Regions from separate parts of the Homo sapiens genome. Here regions 1 and 2 are each reported to be linked to region 3. The links are microRNA targets in miRTarBase. Many come from high-throughput screens and were not tested one by one. Region 3 holds a microRNA gene; each other region holds the end of a gene's coding sequence.

Region 1 (7,811 bases), not on the chromosome of region 3:
GAAGTTGCTTTGGTTGGTGGCTTGAAACTTCTAGCTAGACTGTCACTTCTTACAGAACAAGACTTATGGACTGTTAATGGACTTCCAAACGAAAATAACTCTTCAGATCATCTGCCTTTATTGGCAAAGTTCAGACTTGAGCTCTGACTCTCTTTGATCACATACTAATTTTCTTTCCAATTTGTATTGTTTTTCAAAGAATGTAAAGTTCTTAAGTGTATGCATGTTGTTTATTTTTGCACTGTGGAGATTCTGAAGCGGTTATGTTAGATGCTTTGAAACTCCATATCAGAAGAAATAACTTTATAACAATTTTTTTTAATAATGAAAAATATTTTCGTGACAAGTGAGCTCTAAATTCTCTTTATTGTAAAAGAGATGTAAAGGTTTTATATTCTAAATCCTAGTAAAATTGACAGTGATTTTTAAATATAATGCATCTTCCTTTGTCTGCTTAGTAAAAAATTTCATTTCATAATTTTGGCAAGCTCTGTAGTGGATCCAAAGTATCTTTGAGTTCTTGCAAACTACAAGTTGTTTCCTTTCCAGAAGGCTTGATTTCATTAGGAGACCCCTCTATTGAGTTCTAAATAGTTTATCTTAGAAAGCCTTGGGTCATTCACAGGTATCCAACCAGCCATTGTTTAGTTTGTTTTTGAAGGGGTTTGATAATGCTTTTTAAGTTGTACAGAATGCTTAATCCATCTTATTACTGTCCTGAGCCATGTAATATGCCTGCATCGTGTTGGGGAAATGTTTGGGAAATATAAGCCAGCATAACGTGTAAAGCTCACTCTTTCACCCTGGAACAGACAAGAGGTGGGCTTAATAGAGGCAGAGACTGGGGATATACCTTTGTTTCCCTAGCATTTTTATTTATTTATTTTTATTTTATTTTATTTTTTGAGATGGAGTTTCACTCTTGTTGCCCAGGCTGGGGGTGCAATGGCGCAATCTTTGCTCACTGCAACCCCTGCCTCCCGGGCTCAAGCGATTCTCCTGCCTCAGCCTCTCGAGTAGCTGGGATTACAGGCATGCGTCACCACTCCCAGCTAATTTTGTATTTTCAGTAGAGACAGGGTTTCCCCATGTTGGTTAGGCTGGTCTCGAACTCCCAACCTCAGGTGATCCGCCCACCTCAGCTCTCAAAGTGCTGGGATTACAGGCGGGAGCCACTGCACATGGCAGCATTTTTTAAAAATTCAGTTTTAAGATCTCTGGTTTAGGGGAGAGATTTTATTTTACTGAACCAGTTCTATAGAAATTTATTTTATTAGGAAATTTGTCTTTGGAACAAAGTGGCAGCTATAAAATTATTTTTGTTAAGCCTCAGAAATATGAGGAAGCCTGTAAAACTCTAGTGGGGAGATATTAACTTGGAGACCTAATGCTCTGTAAATAGTCATTTAAACTGTTGGTTTTAGTGGTTTTGTTTCTAAAATGTTTTCTTTTACCGTGATGCACCAGTATGAGATGGTGCTGACACTTTCTATGAAGTGGTTATGAGCAGGTTTAATAAATCCTCTATACAAGTGTTTGAATCAATTTTAAAACATAAAAAGTGGAAATTTCCTTTTTTGTAGACAGTAGGAACAAGGAATTATATGCATTTTTACTAAGTAGTAATTTTACACTGAATTGTAAATGTTTTTACAGTGAGTTTTATTAATAGAATGCTTCACCTTAAATTGGAAAACAATAATAGTCTTGGACTAAGTCTTTGTACTAAAGCATTTGCTATAATTATTTTTAAAAAAACAAACAGATGAAAACCTCAGAGAAGGCATGTGGATTATAAGATTTGTCTAGTAAAAATTGTAATTGAATATGTTTAAATATTTAATTTCTCATTTTGGGGGGTTTTTATTTTTTTATTTTTTAGATGGTGTCTCACGCTATCGCCCAGGCTGGAGTGCAGTGGCGCGAACTCGGCTCACTGCAACCTCCGCCTCCTGGGTTCAAGCAATTCTCCTTCCTCAGCCTCCCAAGTAGCTGGGATTACAGGCATGCACCACCATGCCCAGCTAATTTTTGTATTTTTAGTAGAGATGGAATTTTGCCATGTTGGCCAGGCTGGTCTTGAACTCCTGACCTCAGGGGTGATCCACCCGCCTCGGGCTCCCAAAGTGCTGTGATTACAGGCATGAGCCACCATGCCTGGCCTTTGGGGGGATTTTAATTACAGTATTAATTATAGTTCTAGGATTTCCCACATTTTATAGTAGTAGTTTGCAGGATATTATGTGCCCTAATTAGCAGATATAGACATTATCAAATTATAATGATAGTATAATTATCCCTTTTTAATATTGGGGAAAGAAAAATGAAAATTCATTAGTTAATTACTGCTTTGTGTTGTGTGAATTTATTAACAAATAACATTATTACATATAGGTCATTGTTAACAAACAAACATCCCTGAAAACCTCTGTGAAAATTTAATTTTTTATATCCTGATTAATATATTGTGACTTTAGGCCCATTTTTCATGTGCTTCACTTTGATAGAGTTAATCCATAAAATTGCTCTTTACTTTAGCTTATCAAATGAAGTATTATTTTGTGGACTGGAGGCCAAAAAGTCAATGTGAGCTTCTCACAGGTTTTTAAAGCTCCACTAAAAATAATTATCCACTTGTCTTTACTTTTGTTGACCAGAATAGTTGGTAACTCTGCCAGAGCCTGTACTTACCTGCCAAAAACAATTAAATCTGGTTAATGCCTGAAACCAAATCTCTCAGTCTCAAGTGTTATACTATCCAAGTTTTAAATGGAAAGGTAAACTGTGGAGTAATGAAATTTTGGTTTTACTGTACCTTTTGCTATCAAGATAATATTCATGTTTGAAATCTTGTCTTTATTTGGAATTTAGTTACTGTCTGCTTTTAACCTTTGCTTTCCTAAAGAAAGTTTGAGATCCAGAGAGTTCAAGGGATTGGGGAAAGAGAGGCGTCAAGTCATTTGCACTTTGTACCTGTAAGTTAGGTAATAAACTATTATACTCGTACTTCTGTGCCTGAAGGTTTTGTGGTAGGTATACTGAGATGTATAAGCTGTACTGTTGCCTTTACTAAACTATTTCATTGCCCTTTGCAGCCATTTTTACTTAGGGGTGATGCTAAAAGATGAGTGAATTGAGATATGTCAAAATAGAGTGATAGAGTGTTTTTAATATAGAGTCTGCAGATTGTGAAAGAAGGGTGAAAGAACGATAAATAGGTTCAGTAGAATAAATATATAATAAGAGGACCAAAAAAAAAAATCACACCATCTTACTTTTTTTTTTTTTGAGACTGAGTCTTGCACTGTTGCCCAGGCTGGAGTACATTGGCGGGATCTCAGCTCACTGCAACCTCCGCCTCCCAAGTTCAAGCGATTCTTCTGCTTCAGCCTCCCAAATACCTGGGATTACAGGCGCCCGCCACCATGCCCGGCTAATTTTTTGTATTTTTAGTAGAGACAGGGTTTCACCATGTTGGTCAGGCTGGTCTCGAACTCCTGACCTCAGGTGATCCACCCGCCTTGGCCTCCCATAGTGCCGGGATTACAGGCTTGAGCCACTGAGCCCGGCCACATCTTACATATTTAGAAGAAAAACAATCCTTAAGTTTCCAGGATGGTTTTATTAAAGTCCCATGCTGTGTTAGAAACATACAAGTGATGAGAAAAACATTAACTTGAAACATGCACTTACTGGCATTCTCTAAAATACCATTATACAAGTTTTCATTTAATTAGAAAAATACCCACTAAAACAATCACAGTTCTTCTTAAAGATTTAAAAAAAATGTATTGGCCAGAACAAAGTCCAAGAGAATAAACAAAGTTCTGAATTGTATGTCAAAAAAACTGTACAAGGTTGTACATAAAACTATAGCTTACAAAAGACTCAGGTATAGTAAGAATTCTGAATTAAGATTTCCAAAGTTCTATTTACCAATATCTATTAATAAAATCCTTATGAAATAATTGACTTAGAAAAAGTGAAATGCTCATGATTTCAGAGTGTATAGAAAATACTAAATATCTCCGAAATAAAGTGTACTCAAAACAGCACAACATACAGTCTAAAATCAAGATTTCTGTCATTCATTTAAACTTTGCATATATTGCCATGATGGCTTAAACATAAAATTTCTCTTGCACTAACAACTTTTTAAAACCGATTTCAAATCACTTCATAGTTTTATTTTTTATATTTTGAATTCTAGCCAGTCTTAAAATCAGCTTTGGGAGGGGGGTGCATATAACATGTTTTTTGTTTTGTTTTGTTTTTTGTTTTTTAAATTATTGCACTAGAATTTAGGGGTTTGGTGCCTCTCCCGTATTTTTTTTAGAAATTAGCATATTCCATAGGCAATAAAAGTAGGATGACAACTAAGAACATTTTAAATGTACTTTCAAGTTTGTGTGACTAAACCTTGCTTTGGGAAAATTAGTCTAAAAATCAAGGAGCGGGTGTGGGAGAAATTAGCTTACTAATTGAACCATCAAGCCAGTTGGCAGTTCTAAGGCTTCTTTATCAGCATATTACAGAGTTTGTATTCCTGTTCTTTTCCTCCTTGTTGTGGGAAACAAGCTATGCAACCATTTGACATTCTGTATTTTAGATGTAACAGTACTTAATACTTGGCAAAAATAAATTCCAACTCTTAGAATGGTTGCAGTGTTATAAGAGGTCTACTTATTAGATGTAAGCAAGTTTCAGATTGACAAACAGAAGGTATATGGCTAAGTCAGTATTGTTTTAGAATGAAAATGAAATGATTCACTATTTCAAACATCTGAATACATGTGGCCAAGAGGCTGCGAATGGGTTTGCTGTGTGTAGATAAACAGAGCTAACTCATTTTAAACTCTGATAATACTGTTCTTAAAGAGATTAAACTGATAATTTTTAACCCTGTGCTACATTTTAATCTAATGGAGATGTATACTTGGTCTTGTTCATCTAAAGGACATTCGACTTCTTTAAGAAAACAGTACTTTTCATTAATAATACTGATTTTCAGGGTGAAGTAAGCTCTTGTGCACCCTTTTGCTTTGAAGTCCTTTTGCTTTCCCTGTCACCCCCAGAAATCTTGTAAAGAATTGGTAAAGAATCTCAATGAGCTTTTTTTTTTTTTAACTTCCTTCCTATAAACACCTTCAGTCAAAGAAAGCCAGAGGAGATGCACTGAGACTGAAATAACATCTGTTGACTACCAGACTTCACTGAAATCGGCCGTCTGCTCTCCTGAGTTGGCATTGTTGCTAAGATAAAGCAAATGAAATTGAAGCTGTACTCTTGATATTTACACCATACAAGACTAGGCTGTTAGGGTTGTCCTGTGTGGTCTGCAGCCAGAGGTTACACTGTAACTACCATATGCAGGCCAGACATTCATTCTGTGCTTAGGGACTGAATTACACTATAAGGTGTAACACTGGACCGAAGACTTTTCCATTAAAAAAAAAGTGCTGCTTTTCTAATTCTTTATATTTTCCAATACTCATTCCTAAAATGTCATGAAATGGTACCTAAAAGCAAAGTACTGGAAGATAATCACATCATGTCACATTTGGTCTTAATATAAGACATCAGAACACATCTTTAACAGTGAGTCCTCCCTTAGTTTGATTCTTGGCATCCTTCAGAAGAATCAAAGCCTGCCTCAGTTTAAAAATCAGATGAAATGTGAACAGAAAGGTTTTTTGGTTCTGAAGACCTGCTGATCACTCCTGGTCTCTGCCTGAGTGTGTTAATGTCAGAGGTAAATCCAGTACCGCTAAATTTGTATAATAGTACGTGACCTCTTGTGCTTTTTGTTAGAGTCTGCAAAGTTTAAATGTTAGTGACAGAACATAGACTAGCTTCTCAATGTGATATTTTTGTTTCATTTTGAAAAAACAAAAACATCAGTGAATGCTTTAAGAAAGATTAAGAAGGAAGTAACTCCAAGATCCTGAAAATGGTTCTTGTATTGCCAGAAGAATTTCAGTGCTTTTTAGTAAAACACTTGCATATAGTACCTTAAATCTCCTCACGTGTGTGCACCAGGAAAAAACTCCAAACTTGTGGAGATCCCCATGGGAAATACTGGGGAAAGAATACAAATAGAATATAAAAAAACAAAACGCCATTAAGTTTGCATATCTGATGTCAAAATGCTGAGGTAATAACTGCTTAAAAAAAACCCACCCATTTTTGCTTTCTGTTATTGCTGAAAAAGACAGTAATACTGTTAGAGTTACCTTACTATACCAAAAGTTCAAGAGATTATTTCATGAACATTTACTATTGGTGAGGCATAATGTTCAAAGCAAGTAAAAGAAAGTAGGTAAATGGAAAAATATAAAACTTCAGTTACGGTTATCCTTAAGATCTTGAGTGAGGGACATAGTCCAACCCCAGTGGGGCTTATTACTTCAGCCTTTTCATGGTGCCTTTTAGTGAATTTTTTAAAGCTAATGGTTACCACCCACTCAGATTCTATTTCCAGGTGAATCCTTAAAAATAAAATTCACAAGTTCTTAATAAATAGTTGCAGTTCCTCCTGAAGATGCTGGGTAAAGTGCAGAGAGAAGCACCACAGAAACCCTCTTGCTGGCCGGTATGGCTTGGCTAAATTCGGATTTGATAGCCCACTTCATTCAGAGTGCTCAGATCAGCCACCTTCTTTTCAGGCAGTGCAGGCCTAAGGGTAAAAGACAGAAATATGGTGGAGGAGAGGGGATGGGGCAAAGAAAGACAACAGCATTTTCAAGGTCCTCTACTCGGTTTTCCTAATCCTTCTGATATTTGTCTCATCCTCCCATTCCCCCACCCTGCCAGCCTTAGCTCACAACTCTACTTCTTGTTCTTAAGTCCACCTTTAAAGGTTTTAAGGAACATTTTAACAGACTTTCAATGTAGAGTTCAGAAAAGTTTTCAGGGTGTGGAATGAGCTTCTGCAGCTTTAAGCCTGACTTTGGTCACATTATAGCTTTTGAAACCCAGTACTCTTGAACCTTGCAAGGGTCTAAAAGTCACATACACTACAGTAGAGCCAAGAATCTGAGTCAAATTCTCCTTGAAACATTGGCTTCCTAGTGTTCGTGTCCTGGAGGAAGCCCAGGAATCAAAGGTGACTCACGTTCCCAGGGAGCGGTTAATGTTCAGGCTTGAATGTATAAAATCAAGGTGAATCTTAGGATTCATCTGAAAAAGCATGTCAGTGTGGAAAATCACTCAGTGGCAAAACATCTCTTCCCTAGAAACGTGCTAAAGTCACTTCCAACATAAAACTACAACTAAGCAATTATGCAAAGTCATGTGAGAAAGTACTTCAAGCTGGGAAATACAACATTCACATCAATAGCACATCATCTGTCTTCATTAAAGATGCGTCCTAAATGACTTCCAATATACGATTATGCCTAAACAATCTCACAATGTATCTTACAACTTTTCCATTTCTTAATGAGCCTCTTCTCACCTTGGATAAGAGAGAACTGAGATCATGAATCAAGTTTAGGATATTCAGTATGGCTAGTGAGTTCTAATTCAAAAGTTTCACATCCATTTTTGCAAGAAAAAGACATGTTTAGGTTACACATAAACCTTGTTTTTGTTTTGTTTTTGTTTTTGTTTTTGAGACGGAGTTTCGCCCTTGTTGCCCAGGCTAGAGTGCCGTGGCACAATCTTGGCTCACTGCAACCTCTGCCTCCCCAGTTCAAGTGATTCTCCTGCCTCACCCTCCTGAGTAGCTGGGATTACAGGCATGTGCCACCACACCTGGCCAATTTTGTATTTTTGTAGACATGGGGTTTCACCATGTTGGTCAGGCTGGT
Region 2 (8,008 bases), not on the chromosome of region 3:
CAACTCCTGATAGAAGCAAAGACACACCCCAGAGTAACCAGATTCGAGGTCATTAGAGTGGAGGATGTATGATGCAATATGGCCCCCTCCACCCTCCTACTCACTTCTACACATCTGGGACGCTCATCCCCTGCCCACCACCTTGTCTTCTCTTTCTCCTACTTTTCCCAGAACTCTCCCGCCATTGTTCCCAAGTTCTTTATCTTGAGTGGGGTTTTAACATTTCCCCACTGCCCCTCCTCTGCAGCAGTGCTGTGCTTTCTCTGAACAAGGCTGAAAACATACCTCAGGACTTAATTTTCCTTCCCCATTCCTTGACCAAGGCTGGGGTGATTCACATTTGTCCTTCCACATGCCCCTCTTATGTGTTTCTTTTTTCCATGGAACCAGTAGTTTTCAGCGAAGGCTGAACTACTCTACAATGCTCTAGGACTTTTCAGGGGATTTTGTAGGGAGGTACAGGGAGGATTCGAAGCTGAGAGTGGCAAGAATATCCAAGAGCCACATGGGTTTTCCCATCTGGGAAGCTGAAGCAAAATCTTTATTTCATTTCTCCTCAGGGATGAGGATGACGCTCCTCTGTGTGAAGACGTGGAGCTACAAGACGGAGATCTGTCCCCCGAAGAAAAAATATTTTTGAGAGAATTTCCCAGATTGAAAGAAGATCTGAAAGGGAACATTGACAAGCTCCGTGCCCTCGCAGACGATATTGACAAAACCCACAAGAAATTCACCAAGGCTAACATGGTGGCCACCTCTACTGCTGTCATCTCTGGAGTGATGAGCCTCCTGGGTTTAGCCCTTGCCCCAGCAACAGGAGGAGGAAGCCTGCTGCTCTCCACCGCTGGTCAAGGTTTGGCAACAGCAGCTGGGGTCACCAGCATCGTGAGTGGTACGTTGGAACGCTCCAAAAATAAAGAAGCCCAAGCACGGGCGGAAGACATACTGCCCACCTACGACCAAGAGGACAGGGAGGATGAGGAAGAGAAGGCAGACTATGTCACAGCTGCTGGAAAGATTATCTATAATCTTAGAAACACCTTGAAGTATGCCAAGAAAAACGTCCGTGCATTTTGGAAACTCAGAGCCAACCCACGCTTGGCCAATGCTACCAAGCGTCTTCTGACCACTGGCCAAGTCTCCTCCCGGAGCCGCGTGCAGGTGCAAAAGGCCTTTGCGGGAACAACACTGGCGATGACCAAAAATGCTCGCGTGCTGGGAGGTGTGATGTCCGCCTTCTCCCTTGGCTATGACTTGGCCACTCTCTCAAAGGAATGGAAGCACCTGAAGGAAGGAGCAAGGACAAAGTTTGCGGAAGAGTTGAGAGCCAAGGCCTTGGAGCTGGAGAGGAAACTCACAGAACTCACCCAGCTCTACAAGAGCTTGCAGCAGAAAGTGAGGTCAAGGGCCAGAGGGGTGGGGAAGGATTTAACTGGGACCTGCGAAACCGAGGCTTACTGGAAGGAGTTAAGGGAGCATGTGTGGATGTGGCTGTGGCTGTGTGTGTGTCTGTGTGTCTGTGTGTATGTACAGTTTACATGAATGTTCCTCAGGACATGGCATACAATGGCCTTGGAGGTCCAAATAATATCAAGTACATCTTGGAGATGAGGGTGCCTGTCCTGGACAGACCTCGGCATGCCTTCTGTTTCTCCTTCAATGCTCCTTAAGGCCTATGTGCTGGGAAAAGGGTCTTCCCTGTTTGTTTGTTTGTTTGTTTGTTTGTTTGTTTTGAGACAGGGTCTCTGTTGCCCAGGCTGGAGTGCAGTGGCGTAATCTCGGCTCACTGCAACCTCTGCCTCCTGAGTGCAAGCAAGTCTCCTGCCTCAGCCTCCCAAGTAGCTGGGATTACAGGCACGCACCACCACGCCCAGCTAATTTTGGTATTTTTTTGTAGAGACAGGGTTTCACCATTTTGGCCAGGCTGGTCTCGAATTCCTGACCTCAAGTGATCCACCCACCTTGGCCTCCCAAAATGCTGGGATTACAAGCGTGAGCTACCCTGCCCAGCCGGGTCTTCCCAGTTTTAACAAAGAGGTCACAGAGCCACAGGCGGAGTTAGGAACTAAATTGTCTCCTCCTCCCAATTCATATGTTGAAGTCCTAAACCAAAATGTGGCTGTATTTAGAGATGGACCCTTTGGGAGGTAATTAGGGTTGACTGAGGCCATAGGGTGAGGTCCTAACCCGATGGAATTGACTTCTTTATAAGAGGAGGAGGAAATACAAGAGGGCCTCCCCACCCCTGCTGCACACCTACACTGAAGGAAGGCTATTTGCAGATGCAGCAAGAAGGCAGCCATCTGCAAGGCAGAAGAAGAGAGCCCTCACCAGGAACTGAATAAGTCAGTCAGTCTGGGACTTCCAGCCTCTAGAACTGTGAAACAATAAATTTCTGTGGTGTAAGCAACTCAATCTATAGTAGTTTGTTACTATTTTGTTATAGCAACCAAAGATGACTAAGCCAGACAGGTTATGTCACTCGCCAAGTGTCTTAGTCTGTTTGTGCTGCTATAACAAAATACCTTAGACTGGGTAATTTACAAACAACAGAGATGTATCCAGAGATCCACAGTTCTGGAGGCTGAGAAGTCTAAAATCAAGGCACCAGCAGATTCCACATCTCGTGAAGGCTCACTCTCTGCTTCACAGATGGCACTGTCTTGCTGTGTTCTCACATGGCAGAAGGGGCAAACAAGCCCCCCTGGGCCTCTTTTATAAAGGCACTAACTCTATGCCTAAAGGCAGGGCCCTCATGACTCTATCACCTACCAAAAGGCTCCACTTCTTTATACTATTGGAGGGGTAGAAGGAACTTCCTTTCTAGACCTTGAAGGTTTAAGAATTTGAATCTATAAAACAAGCTGACAATAGACAGATTAACAGGAGAAAAAGCATATACATTTTTTAATGTGGGCCAGATGGCAGAAGCTTAAATAACACCCCAAGCTACAGGAAGTGAGGCCTCTGATGGGGAGGTAGTGACACAGGCTGTGGGAGGGGGTAGGGGGAGGAAGTCTGTGGTGAGCAAAGTTTGCCTTATTACACTGATAAAGTGTAATTACACTAATAAAGCTGGATCACCTGAGGTTAGGAGTTTGAGAACAGCCTGGCCAACATGGCAAAACCCTGTCTCTACTATAAATACAAAAATTAGCCAGGTGTAGTGGCAGGGCACTTGTAATCCTATCTACTCGGGAGGCTGAGGCAGGAGAATCGCTTGAACCCAGGCTGTAAAGGTTGCAGTGAGCCAAGATCATGCCACTGCACTCCAGTCTGGGTGTCAGAATGAGACCCCATCTCAAAAAAAAAAAAAAAAAAAAAAAAGAAGAAGAATACAGTCATGTATCTCTTGGTGACAGGGACGCATTCTGATAAATGTGTCATTAGGCAATTGCATTGTAGTGTGATTATCACAGATTGTACTTATACAAAACTTAGATGGCATAGCCTACTGCATACCTAGGCTATATGGGAGAGCCTATTGCTCCCAGGCTACGCACCTGTACAGCATGTGACTACTGAATACTATAGGCAATTGCAGCACAATGGGAAATATTTGTGTATCTAAACATATGTAAACAGAGAAAAAGGAAAGTAAAAATATGGCATAAAAGATAAGAATTGGCTCTCCTGTACAGGGCACTTACTACGAATGGAGCTTGCAGGGCTGAGAGTTGCTCCAGATGAGTCAGTGAGTGGTGAATGAATGTGAAGGCCTAGGGCATTACTGTATACTACTGTAGGCTTTATAAACACAGCACACTTAGGGTACACAAAATGCATATTAAAACATTTTCTTCCTTCAGTATATTAGGCAATAGGAATTTTTCAAGTCCACTATAAATCTTATCAAACCATGGTTGTATATGCAGTTGACCGAAACATTGTTATTGGACACATAACTATAGTTGAAAGAATAAGCAAAAAGTCTATCTAGGTGTGCTGTCTTGAGCAACTTTTAATTATTCTCCTGTCCTGCAATATGAGTTAATCTTCTCTGATCGATGTAGATTCCAGGAAGGGGTGTCCAGGACAATTACCTTCCTTCTGGAGAAACTTCCCTTAATCAAATAAGAGAACTTCAAAGAAAATCCCTCCCTGTGCTTTGGAAGGGAAGGGAGGTGGGCAGCAGTGGGTCAGAGATAGACCTTTGTTCTCTTATTTCTGAGGCCCTTCAGTCTCCTTTATTCAAAGCACTCAGCATGCCAAAGCACCCTATTTTAGGGTATCTTTTTCTGAGCCCTAAACACTGTGTTGGGGATGTCAACTGTGACAGGAAAATATCTTGGGGCCCCAGAATCACTAAGGAAAACTCAAGCTTAGGGAAACTTCTTAGGGCAAACCCACCTCCCACTCTATTCAAAGTTATCTCTCTGCTCACTGAGATAGATACATATCTGATTGCCTCCTTTGGAAAGGCTAATCAGAAACTCAAAAGAATGCAACTGTTTGTGTCTCACCTATCTGTGACCTGGAAGCTCCCTCCCCACTGAACCAATGTTCTTCTTACATATATTGATTAATGTCTTATGTCTCCCTAAAATGTATAAAACCAAGGTATGCCCCAACCATCTTGGCCACATGTCATCAGGACTTCCTGAGTCTGTGTCACAGTGTGTCCTCAACCTTGGCAAAATAAACTTTCTAAATTAACTGAGACCTGTCTCGGATTTTCTGGGTTCACATTTTGGAAACCATGAATGGATTCTGGGTGGAGATGCCCCTGACCCTTGACAAATCTATCGGTGCTTGGTACCAGCATGAGCTAACTTTATGGCTCAAACCAATAGGACAATTTGCTGAGGTCTGAGAGGACTCCCTCCAGAAAATCCCTGATCTCTTAAAATTTGGTAGAGATCGGAAGTTTATTTTGCTGTACAACACCTCTTTTTTTGGAGTTTTACTTGCTCCCAACAAGGAAGGCAAGTTTTCCTGCTTTCATGATGATGGAAGGCAGGTGATGTTTTTATGGAGTTTCAGCTTTCTTCCAATGCACTTAGAGCACTCAGAAATTGTATAATTTGTGTGACCATTGTTAGTTTTGCTTAACTGTTTTGTTGTTTGTTTCTGTCTTAGTCAAATCTGAAGGGGAACCCTAAATTACGGGGTCAAGGACTCTGAAGTGGTAGGAAAACAGCCAGCTTAAAAAACTTTTTTTAAATTTTAATTACTATAGGGGCTTTATTTACATAACACAGCCAGCTTTTTGCTAGCCAGACCAAACTCAAAGAGCAATGGCTGTACTTCTGAAATAGCAACACTTTGTCCTAGCTGAGATTTGGTAATAAGATTTTTTTTTTAAGTTTTTAAAGAAGCTCAGTGGTTGAAAGTCTGCTTAACTGAAACAGTAACATCCATGATGTGTGTTTTGTGCATGTTTGTATTTGAAAGGCCTTCATGTTTTTGTTTCTTGTTTGTTTTTCTCTCCTAAGACCTTGTCTTTTTTTTGTAGCAAAAGTTTTTTTTTTTTTTTTCCTTTTACTTCTCAGTTGACTGAATTCTGTTTTCACCGGATTTTTTGACTAAAATAGCTATTGCAACAGAGGCTACTCTTGGGTTAAGGAAGAATGTAGTTTCGTTTTATGTTTAATATCGCTCAAAGAAAAATAAAAGCATCTCCCTCTAACACCACCAGACTTTTCCTCTCTGTACCTTATCATGTAAATTTTGCTATTTGATTTTCACCTGGGTTGTTTCCTTTAATGTGCAAAAATTTAAGGCTATTTAGCTGACAACTGCCTAGGGTTGTAAAACAGGTTATCAAGAATCTGAAAGTCTAAGATAGGAAAAAAAAGTGGGGGGGCATTATAAATCTATAAAATGTACTTCTATTGGCATGCCTAATACGTCTTTATATGTATGTATGTGTTGTGTACACGATGTTTTAGTGCTAAAAATATGTAAAAGAGCTCTACTTGGCTTAAAGAAAAATAAAAGTGCTTAAATCAGATACTAAAAAAGAAAAGGCTAGTCAAATGCTTTTTCAAATTTATGTAACTTAAGTAAAATCTTTAATAAATAAAGTAGCTTTAAAATTATTGGTAAAGTAGTATTAGAAATGTCTTAAGAATTGCCAGCATACATTTTTGTTTGCATTATATTAATCAAACAGTTTTATACTTATCCCTGCCAAATACCAGAAGGTGTCAAAATTTGGCATAGGGGTTATAAAACTATAAACCCAGCCCAAAACAGAATGATCTTTGCTTGTGTAATTTTTAATAAATAAGACATTGATATGGGTTTAATGAAAACAGCTGCATCTTGAATTTAGTAAGATTACCATAACTTCTAATCCTGTGGCTTTAGGCAGTTTAGTCCACAGACAATAAGGAGGTTTGTTTTGGGAAAGGACTGTTATTGTCATTGTTTCGAAGCTGAACTTAAACTAGGTTCCTCCCAAAGTTCATTCGGCCTATGCCCAGGAATGAACAAGGACAGCTTGGAAGTTAAGAGCAAGGTGGAGTCAGTTAGGTCAAATCGTTTTTCACTGTCTCAGTTGTAATTTTGCAATGGAAGTTTCATAACTTTAAATCATGACTATCACAGTTTTTATAAATAATCTAGGTAAACAATTAATAAAATAACTAGGTAAATGTAATGGGATAAATACTTATAGACCAACTGGACATAATTTAGAATATAAAGTCATATTAAATTAAATAATAGATAATTTATTATTTGGGTATTTTCCAATAAATATATCTTGTAGGAAAACATTGTTGCTTAAAAAAAAGTGTGTCCTTTTTTAAAAAAATGGTGAACAAGTTTTGTCTAATTCAAAGCTTATTAAAAGGTTATATATAAAACAAGGTAAAAGGAACCAGAAAAGAAAAAAAATGTAAATAAAGTTATAAAAATAAAGAATTTTTTCAAGGTTAAAAAGCTGAAAAAGAAATAATTTTATATAAGAAAGAATTTTATATGGTAAATTTAGTCCTAAAATAAAATAACTGGTTGTTTAACAAGGAGGGATGTTCAGGACAAACCAGAAAGTCCAAGCATGTCATGAACATTGGTGTAAGTCATGATAAGATTTTATATATATATATACACACACACACACACACCCCAAAAGCTTTTATATAATCAAGTTGTCATATTATTATTAAGTTTTGGTTTGCTTAGGGAAGAAAGAGCTAATTTTTAAAAAATCAAGGTTATTACATCCATGTATCTTCCTGTGTATGCTTTTAAAGTCCTTGTAACATTGAGTTACAGGGCTTTAACTCCTGTGTCTGAAAAATCACAAACACTGATGACAATCAAAGCCTCATCTTAAGGCCCCGTAGAAGATGCCAATCAAAATAAACTGCATTCCTGAGGCACTAGGCAAGAAATTAAAGCTATTCAACTCCTCAAGGCCCAGGGACTATTGCGGAAGAGGTGGGCGCGTAAGATTGTAAGGGCCGATTTTGAAAGATCCAGTAAGTTCAGTTTCTCTATGAACTAATCATTCAAGTCAAAGGCACACTGATGCAAAATCAGTATATGGACCCCTGTGTCTGATTAGCAAGGTTTTCTTGAAGCATTAACCAACTCCTTCATAAAGGTTATAAAAGGCTTATGGAAGTTATATTTTATAATCAAGATTAAATCTTATAGTTTGTTTACAAAATTTTGAAAATCAAATGTGATTGGCTTCAGGCTGTTTTTATTAGGGCTTCTTGTTTAGAAAGTTAAGTCACCTCTCTCAAAGAATGAAGGTTTTTGCTTTTTTTGAAATCCTTGAATTATCACTTGGATTAAATAAATGACTTTACGATGACCTGTAATTTTATTTTGTAATGTCAAGTGTTTTAAACCTTTTGTATTTGACAAGCTTTCCAAAATCAAATTATAAATTATGTATTTTTCTAACCTAATTAATCCTTTAAGATCTTAGTTTCCCTAAAGTCCTAAAATGACATAATTTGGCTTATTTGGTATAAAAATTATATAGGAAGCATTGTCAAATGTGAAATGGTGTTTGGTTTTCTTTGGGCTGTATTTGTATAAATATGTT
Region 3 (8,008 bases):
GTGTCATTTTCAGCACCTCCTTCCTCCAGGGTGTCCCATGGAGCCCCTCCTCTTCCTATGTGTCATACTCAGCACCTCCTTCCACCTCCTGTTCCATGGAGCCATTTCTCCTTCCATGTGTCATCCTCAGCTCCTCCTCCCTCCCAGGTGTCCCATGGAGCCCCTCCTCCTCCATCCTTGTGTCATGTTCGACACCTCCTCCACTCATATGTCACATGGAGCCTCCACCCATGTGACACAAATAATTTCTCATCTACTTGTATCACACTGAATGTTCTATCTTTCTTAAGGGTGTCACAGCAAGCCCCACTAATGTGTCACAGGACGCCCCTCTCCCACTCTTGTAGCACACTGAGCTCCTTCCACCACTTAGGTGTCACTCTGACCCTGTCCTCTGCGTGTGTGTCACTAGGAGCCCCACCCATTCAGCTGCACTCTAAGTTCCTCCTCTAATCATGTGTCACACATGTAGTCTCTCCCCACACTCATAAGTCATACAGAATGCCTCTCCCCATCCATGTATCACATTGAGTTTCTCTTCAACATGTGTTACTCAGAGCCCTTCCCTGACTCATGTGTCACCTGGAGCCCCTGTCCCTGTCCATGTGTTACACCGAGTTCTTTCCTGCTCATATGTCACATGAAGCTCCTCCTCTACTCACAAGGCACACAGCACCCCCTGCCCGTTTGTCGAATGGACCCCTCACCTCATGCATGTATAACACTGAGCCGCTCTCCCACCCCGTGTCGTACTGAGCTCCTCCTCCACTGATGTATTGCATGGACTCCTTCTGACACGCGGAGCCCTCCCTGCACCCTTGTGTCTCACTGGGCATCTCTTCCCAACCTTGTGTCCCGTGAGATCTTCCCCCACCCACGTGTCACATCAAGTCCTCTTTCTTGTGTTACTCCAAGTCCCTGCCCCCATATGTCACAGAGAGACTCTTCCCACCCACGTGTCACACCAAGTCGCCTTTCTTGTGTTACTCCAAGTCCCTTCCCCCCATATGTCACACAGAGACTCTCTTCCCACACACGTCACACTGAGCCCCTTTTCTGTCTCACATTCCACCTCTCCTTCACTCATGTGTCATGAGGAGCCTTTTCCCTACTAATGTGTCACCTGAGCTTCTCTCACATGTCACTTGAAGTCCTCCCCTTCCCATGCATCACCCAGAGACCTTCCCCCCACTCATGCATTGCCCTGAGCCCCTCCCTTACTTATGTGACATGGAGCCCCTCTCCACACCCATGTGTCACACCAACCCTCTCTCCACTGATGTGTCACACCAACCCCCTCTCCACCCATGCGTCACATGGAGCTCTTCCCCCACCCGTGTGTCACACCAGCCCCCTCCTCCACCCATGTGTCACACTAACCCCCCCCACCCATGTGTCACACCAGCCCCCTCCTCCACCCATGGGTCACACCAACCCCCTCCTCCACCCATGTGTCCCATGGAGCTCTTCCCCCACCCGTGTGTCACACCAGCCCCCTCCTCCACCCATGTGTTACAGGGAGCCCCTCCTCCCTCCATGTGTCTGTCAATCTGAGCCCCTTTTCCATTCATGTGTCACTCTGAGCCTCTTTCCCACCTCCATACCCTCCTGCCACCCCTACTTCTTAATCTTTAACCCCTTTCCCTAAAGGTTTCCCTCCATGGGCTCTTTCAGAGAATGTTATATTATCAGGTCATTTACTCACAGATATTTTTGCACCACCTACCACGTGCCTGGCTGCGTGTCCCTGTGCATGTGTGTTGGTGGTGTGGATGGCTGGAGAGTGTAGGACGAGGCAGGCAGTATGGTGGTTGAGAAAGATGTCAAAGAACAAAGGAAGGTGTTTTGGGGTACAACTTTATTGAGATGTAATCCACATACACACAATCCGCCCATTAAAGCTCACAGCGAAGTGTGTTTTAGTTATTCACAGATATCTGCAACTATCACCATAATCAATTTAAGATCATTTTCATCACCCCCAAAAGAACTCCAGAGCCTTCAGCTGTCACCTTCACCCTCCATGCACACCCCCCAGCCCTCAGCAACCAAAAATCTACTTTCTGTCTCTGGGAAATTCTTGAAGTGCCCCTGGACTTCATGAGTCCTCACTGGGTCCCCAGAGGTGCCTGTTGCAACCCATTTCACAGATGTAGAAGGCAAGGCTGGAGAAGTACCAGGGAGTCAAAGCAGTGGGTGGGTGGGGTCGAGTCCCCGATGTCCACTCACAGACCTGGGCCAGAATCAGGCCTGTCTCCCCCTTCACCTCCCCATCCTCCGTCCCTTGGCCTGGCTGCACAGTCACCTGGGGGCTCTGTGGGGCTAAGGGAGGCCCAGGCCCTGGCCATAGGAGGCAGGTAGGGCAAGGCTGGGCAGGGTGGACAGGTACCCCAGCGCTGCAGGTGCCCAGCAGTGGGTGGCACTGCCTAGGCTGGCTGTCCCTTGCTGTCACTGCTCTAACCACTAGCAGCAGGCGTCCCCTCTGCCATCCGAGCGCTTGCACTGCGCTTCCGGGAGGAGGGTTGCGGCCCGTAGTCAGTAGTTGGGGGGTGGGAACGGCTTCATACAGGAGTTGATGCACAGTTATCCAGCTCCTATATGATGCCTTTCTTCATCCCCTTCAACCACGCGCAGCCCCCGGACCCTCCTCTGCACCCTTGGCTGCACGGGGACGCGTCCTCAAGTCCGCTGCTGTCCTGCCAGCCTCTTCCCGGCATGCTCCTTGGGCTCTTCTCTCTCTCTTCTGCAGCTCTCTGACTTCCTGGAGGGGAGGGCCTGGGGCTGGGCCATCTCTGAGGCCCCTCCTTGGCAGGGAACTATGCCCCTGGTGGGACACCCCCTGGGCTGACTCCACAGCCAAGGGCAGATAGGCCGGAGGGGGAGTTGGGTAGCCCTGGGGCTTCTCCCACTGAGGGGCTGGGGCTGTGCTCCCACACAGAGCCCTCCAAAGGGACCCGGCCCACAGGATGGATGGACAGACGTTGGAGAGATGGTGCCCCTTTGTGCCCAGGGTGGAGGGGGTGGGGCTTTGGCGGACCAGGGCTGGCCCTTTCTGTGCCCCAAGAGGAGGGTCTCCTCGAGGGGTCTCTGCCTCTACCCAGGACTCTTTCATGACCAGGAGGCTGAGGCCCCTCACAGGCGGCTTCTTACTCTCTCCTTAAACCTGTTCTGGAGACATTTCCCCTCTCCCCAAGGATTCCCAACTCTGGGTCCCCAGAAGCTGTCAGCTGGGCTCCCTTCTTCCCCTGTGCGTACCCTGCTCAGGCTGGGTACCTGAGGGTGCCCAATGGCAACATGAGCAGGGGGCACGGCCGTGGCCCCTGGTTCTTGGACCTCTGTCTTCTGCCTCTCTGACTAACTCAGGTCCTGTGCATGGCAGAGGTGACCCGCACCAAGCCCTGTGATATTGGCATCATTAACCCCATTAACAAGCCACGACAGCCAGCCCAGGCATGAGCATCGGGGCAGCAGGGCAGCCAGTGTGGGGAGAGAGGCCTTGCAGTAGCTGAGGCCATTAGAGAGGACAAGAGGGTGCAGGAGGGAGCATCCTCACCTCTGCCCTTCCCACTTACATCCCATCTCCCCTTCCTCACCCCTCCTTCCCCATGCACCCCTTCTTCCTGTAGGAGGGAGCACCCTCACCTCTGCCCTTCCCACTCACCTCCCATCTTCCCTTTCTCACCCCTCCTCCCCAATGCACCCCCTCCCTTCCTGCAGGAGGGAGCACCCTCTCCCCTGCCCTTCCTTCCCACCTCCCGTCTCCCCTTCCTCACCCCCGCTTCCCCCATGCACCCGCTCCCTTCCTGGTCTACCCCTCAGCTTCTGTGGTGTCAGGATGGGTATGCTTGTCTTTGTTGATCTCAGACAGGTGGACAGGGGTCTGGACGAGGCTTACTGTTTGGGTCTGAGGTCAGTGCTCATGGGCTTGGGGCATGACAAGGGTCTTGTCGTCCCCGCAGCAGGGCTCTGAGCGGGTGGGTGGAGCTTGGGAGTGGGGGTGATGGCTTCTATTTGTTGTCTTTCTCTTTTTCACTTTGGGAGCAACCGGGGTCACCAGGTGGGCAGGAGGGGACCTCACGTCTCTGCCCTGGGCAGATTGTTAAGAGCTGGTCAAGCTCCTGGCACGGGGGCCTGAGTCCAAGGCCCTAACTGGACCTGGGGCCGCCTGCAGGAGGGATGAGCGAGTCCGGACCCGAGCGGTGAGTAGCCCTCAGCTGCCTGGGTGGTGTGCTGTTGAGTGTTCCAGAAACTGGCCCTGTGTGCACCAGGGCTGGAGGCTGGCACGTTGGGCATCTCATGGGGGTGGGCTGGGTCGGGAAGGGAGGTTGATGGACAAGACTCAGCAGGAGTGGAGCTCAGGGCTCCCTCCATCCCCTGACATCAGTGACCTGGGGGTGGACAGAGAAGGTGGAAGATGGGTGCATTTAGTTGTGGCCCGCCAGGTCCCGTGGGCCTGTGTGCCAGTGTCCGCGCCAGGCTGTGCTGTCTGCTGTTCAGAGGAGTTTTCACCTTTTTTTGTGGTGGCCATGATGTCATAACCCAGCATGACATTTAACATTAACCTTCCTTTTTCTTTCCCCAGGAGAAAAAAAGGTTTGTATTATTTTTCTTTTGAATTTTTTATTTCCATAGGTTTTGGGGAACAGGTGGTGTTTGGTTACATGAGTAAGTTCCTTGGTGGTGATTTGTGAGATTCTCGTGCACCCATCACCTGAGCAGTACACACTGAACCCAGTTTGTACTTTTATCCCTCACCCCCTCCCACCCTTTTCCTGGAGTCCCCAGAGTCCGTTGTATCACTTTATCAGTAGTTCTCCTCTGGGCCTGGGGGCTGCCGCTCTTCTCTGTAAACTAAACCTGCTGTGGCTGGATGGGGCAGGGGAGCCAAGGAGGCGAGGTCCTCACTGTCTGCTGGTGTGGGGGGCCGTGGCCACTCTAGCACCGGGAGCCCCCAGTCAATATGTGTGTGTGTGTGTGAACTGTGGATAAATACGCTTACCTTAGCGCGTGTCTGGATTCCCCCACTGTGGGGCACGGGTGATTACTGCTGGTAAATTCTCTGTTTGGCCTTACCCTGCAAGGTAGTCCTGTTCATCCCTCCACCTTTTTTTTTTTTTTTTCTTGAGACGGAGTTTCACTCTTGTTGCACAGGCTGGAGTGCAGTGGCGCGATCTCAGCTCATCGCAACCTCCGCCTCCCAGGTTCAAACGATTCTCTGCCTCAGCCTCCTGAGTAGCTGGGATTATAGGCATGCGCCACCATACCCAGCTAATTTTTTGTTATTTAGTAGAGACGGGGTTTCTCCATGTTGGTCAGGCTGGTCTCGAGCTCCTGATCTCAGGTGATCCATCTGCCTCGGCCTCCCAAAGTGTTGGGATTACAGGCGTGAGCCACTGCACCCGGCCTTGCCCCTCCATCTTTGATGGCCAGGAGGAAAGGATGGCGGTCGTCGACGGTCCTGGCTGCAGGGACACGGGGACTGCCAATCCACCCCACATTTACCCAAGGAGCCCTTACCAAGCAGGGACAGAGATTTGCCATTAAAATCCAGCCTCTGGGACCCCCCAGGGGTGGCCTTCAGGAGACCTGATCTAGGGACCCTCCATTATGACCCCAGGCTCTATCCCAAGGTAGTTTACTTCAAGGGACTTGGGAGCCCCAAGAAGAATGTCATCTGGGAACAGAGGGGGTTTTAGGAGCCAGCGGCCCTTGGAGACTGGGTCTGGTTATTCTGGAAATGACCCTCCCTCTCACTACATCCCCCATTTGATGATGGGAAAACAGGCTGGAAGATGGACAGCCACTACCTGAGGTCACCCAGCAAGTCAAAGTTGGGGCCTTCTGGGGCCAGGTCACTAAAGGGGATCTGCACCTCTTGCAGCTGAGCCCCTGGCCTTAACCCATGGCAGCCTGTCTTGGGCTGCCATCAGAGGCAGAGTGCTAGGTGAACGGACAGACAGACATGGTGCCCTTGAGCTCCTGGAGCTGCTGTGATGTTGGTTGTTGTGGAGGTCATTGCTGGGCCTTGTGACTGGAGGCAGAGTGGGTGAAGTGGCCCAGGTGAGAGGACAAAGATCAGCCACCAGGAAGGGGCCTCCATCCTGGCTCTGTCCTCAGCTCCTCTGCAGCCGGTTCTGGGCCTTGATTTCCCCAAGTTTACCTTGGGAAATTGACATGAGAAGTCTGTGGATGGGGCTGGGAGCTCTGAGTGCCAGCTGTGCCCAGCAGTTTATTCCTAACTCTGAATCCTCACAGCAGCCTTGGTGGGTTGGAGTGACAGATGAGGAAACTGAGGCTGGGAGAGGCCTTCCTGCAGCCAGCCAGTGGAGGGAGAGAGAAGCCCAGAGGTGTAGCCCCTGCCTTTGAACCTGGAGATCCTGACCATGATCTCCTGGTGCTGCTATCAGGGGTAGATTCTTCAGACAGGTGGATGGTGGGTGAAGGCCAGGCACCCCTGGGGACTTGTGAGGGCATCGTGAGCCCTGTGTGGGGCTGGGCAGTGCAGGGAAGGAAGGAGGCTGAGCTTGCAGTGCCAGCCTTGGGCTCCCGTGGGGTGTGTCCTTGGTCAGGGGCTCCCCACTGTGTGCCCAGTGGTCCTGGTCCACGATGGGTAGGAGCAGGAGGCAGAGCCACACTGTCTGGAGGCTGTCATGCTCCCGTGCCTCCCCTCGAGGACACAGTAGGGTCTCTTCCATGTGGGAGCTGAGAACTCTGGGGCCAGGTGGAAATGGCTTTCCTAGGGGATGGGGTGGCTCCAACTCAGGCTAGTCAGACCCCTGCGGGGCCCCTGAGCTTTGAGCCTGAGATCTGTTGGGTGGTCTCACGGTGTGTCTTCAGGAGCAGGTTCCTCAGCAGGGCAGAGAGGGCAGAGCTGGTGTGTCCTGGCATGGGGGCCCGTGTGCACAGAGCTCCAGTGTTTTTGCCCTCCTAGATGAAGTTCAAGGTCATGCTGAGAGAGGCCCACGGCTCCTTCCCCTCTGTGTCCTCGCAGAGCTCTCACCTGTGGAGGGGTGCAGTGGGGCGGGGGTGCTCTGGGAGGTTGGAGGCCACTCCTGGATAGGTGTGACCCATGGCCAGGAAGAGGGGTCAGCATGTCCTGGACTGTGGAGGGGGAACTCAGAGTGGGTGAGTGCCACCTGCCCTACCTCCCCAACTCCCTGTGGGACCCCTGGCAGCTCCCCTACCCAGGGCAGTGCACCCTCACCCTCACAACAGCCATTTTGCCACTTTGGGGACAGCATGACCCTCTGAAATGGGACCCAGGACTTTTCCTCTCGGAGTGGGGGTTAGGGACTGCTTGAGACCAGGGCTTGTGGACCCTGCAGTGTGGGGCTCAGACCGCACCTCGTTAATCACATGGCGAGGAGGCCAAGGCCAGAGGTGGGAACTGGGTTTCGGGGCTCCCTTTTCTGGAACCCTTAGGAGAGACAGCCCCCACTCCCCCGCCTCCCACTGCCCTAAGGCACCTCTTCTGTCCTCTCTTTGACATGAGCCTGTGGGGGGTGCACGTCCCTGGTGGCCTCAGTGGGGGTGGGTGCCTTCTCATGGCAGAAAGAAGTGCCCAGAGTCTTGGTGGGGACGCCTTCAGGAAGGTTGGGGGAGGCCTGCTGCCCATGTGCCAGGCCCCCAGGGGCTGTTTCAGGGCAGAGCGTTTCCTGCCCCCACCCTTCCTGCCCAGTCCACTTGCCCCCTCGTCCACCCCACCTACTCCCTCCCTCCTCCCATGCGTGTCCCCTCCCCCGCCTATCCTCCCACCACCTCCACTTTTAGAACAAACCCCAAAGTCAGACAGTCTTTTAGTTTGCTTTATTTGAGGAGTGCAAAAAGATTGGGGGGTGAGAAAGCTCGGGGGGTGGGGAAGGGTCTACTCCCCTTGCAAAGCGGTGGTGTGGCCAGAGCCTCTCTGTGACTCGGCATGGTCCCCTGGGTGTCTGTGTGCCTTCTGGGACTCCATCCCTGTATGAGGGGCCCCTGCACCCCTGCACTGTCCAGTGTTCAGTGTTGGGAG

The links. Region 3 holds the annotated microRNA hsa-miR-337-3p (CUCCUAUAUGAUGCCUUUCUUC, at 2,592-2,613, shown strand). A microRNA usually pairs through its seed, bases 2 to 8, with sites in the 3' UTR of a target mRNA and lowers its output. Matches are read on the target gene's strand: a 7mer-m8 pairs with bases 2 to 8, a 7mer-A1 pairs with bases 2 to 7 and ends in A, and an 8mer does both.
Region 1: the mRNA of VASH2 is a reported target of hsa-miR-337-3p. Seed matches in the 3' UTR shown: 8mer at 5,133-5,140.
Region 2: the mRNA of APOL6 is a reported target of hsa-miR-337-3p. Seed matches in the 3' UTR shown: 7mer-A1 at 3,821-3,827, 7mer-A1 at 5,785-5,791 and 8mer at 7,941-7,948.

What each region holds. Positions count from the first base shown.
Region 1 is chr1:212,987,377-212,995,187 of GRCh38, reverse strand. VASH2 (vasohibin 2) reads right to left here. Exons shown (of 8, transcript NM_001301056.2): 8 at 3,603-6,676. The coding sequence ends at 6,604. It overlaps ANGEL2 (angel homolog 2), which reads left to right. Exons shown (of 9, transcript NM_144567.5): 9 at 1-3,006. The coding sequence ends at 147. Among named protein-coding and RNA genes, the nearest start is that of ANGEL2, 25 kb to the left of the region's middle.
Region 2 is chr22:35,658,055-35,666,062 of GRCh38, forward strand. It overlaps APOL6 (apolipoprotein L6), which reads left to right. Exons shown (of 3, transcript NM_030641.4): 3 at 561-8,008. The coding sequence ends at 1,542. Among named protein-coding and RNA genes, the nearest start is that of APOL6, 14 kb to the left of the region's middle. RefSeq lists an enhancer at 2,795-2,904.
Region 3 is chr14:100,871,962-100,879,969 of GRCh38, forward strand. MIR337 (microRNA 337) reads left to right here and starts at 2,532; the gene lies at 2,532-2,624. MIR665 (microRNA 665) reads left to right here and starts at 3,072; the gene lies at 3,072-3,143. RTL1 (retrotransposon Gag like 1) reads right to left here. Exons shown (of 4, transcript NM_001134888.3): 4 at 7,792-8,008. RefSeq lists an enhancer at 1,711-1,880 and a silencer at 5,234-5,444.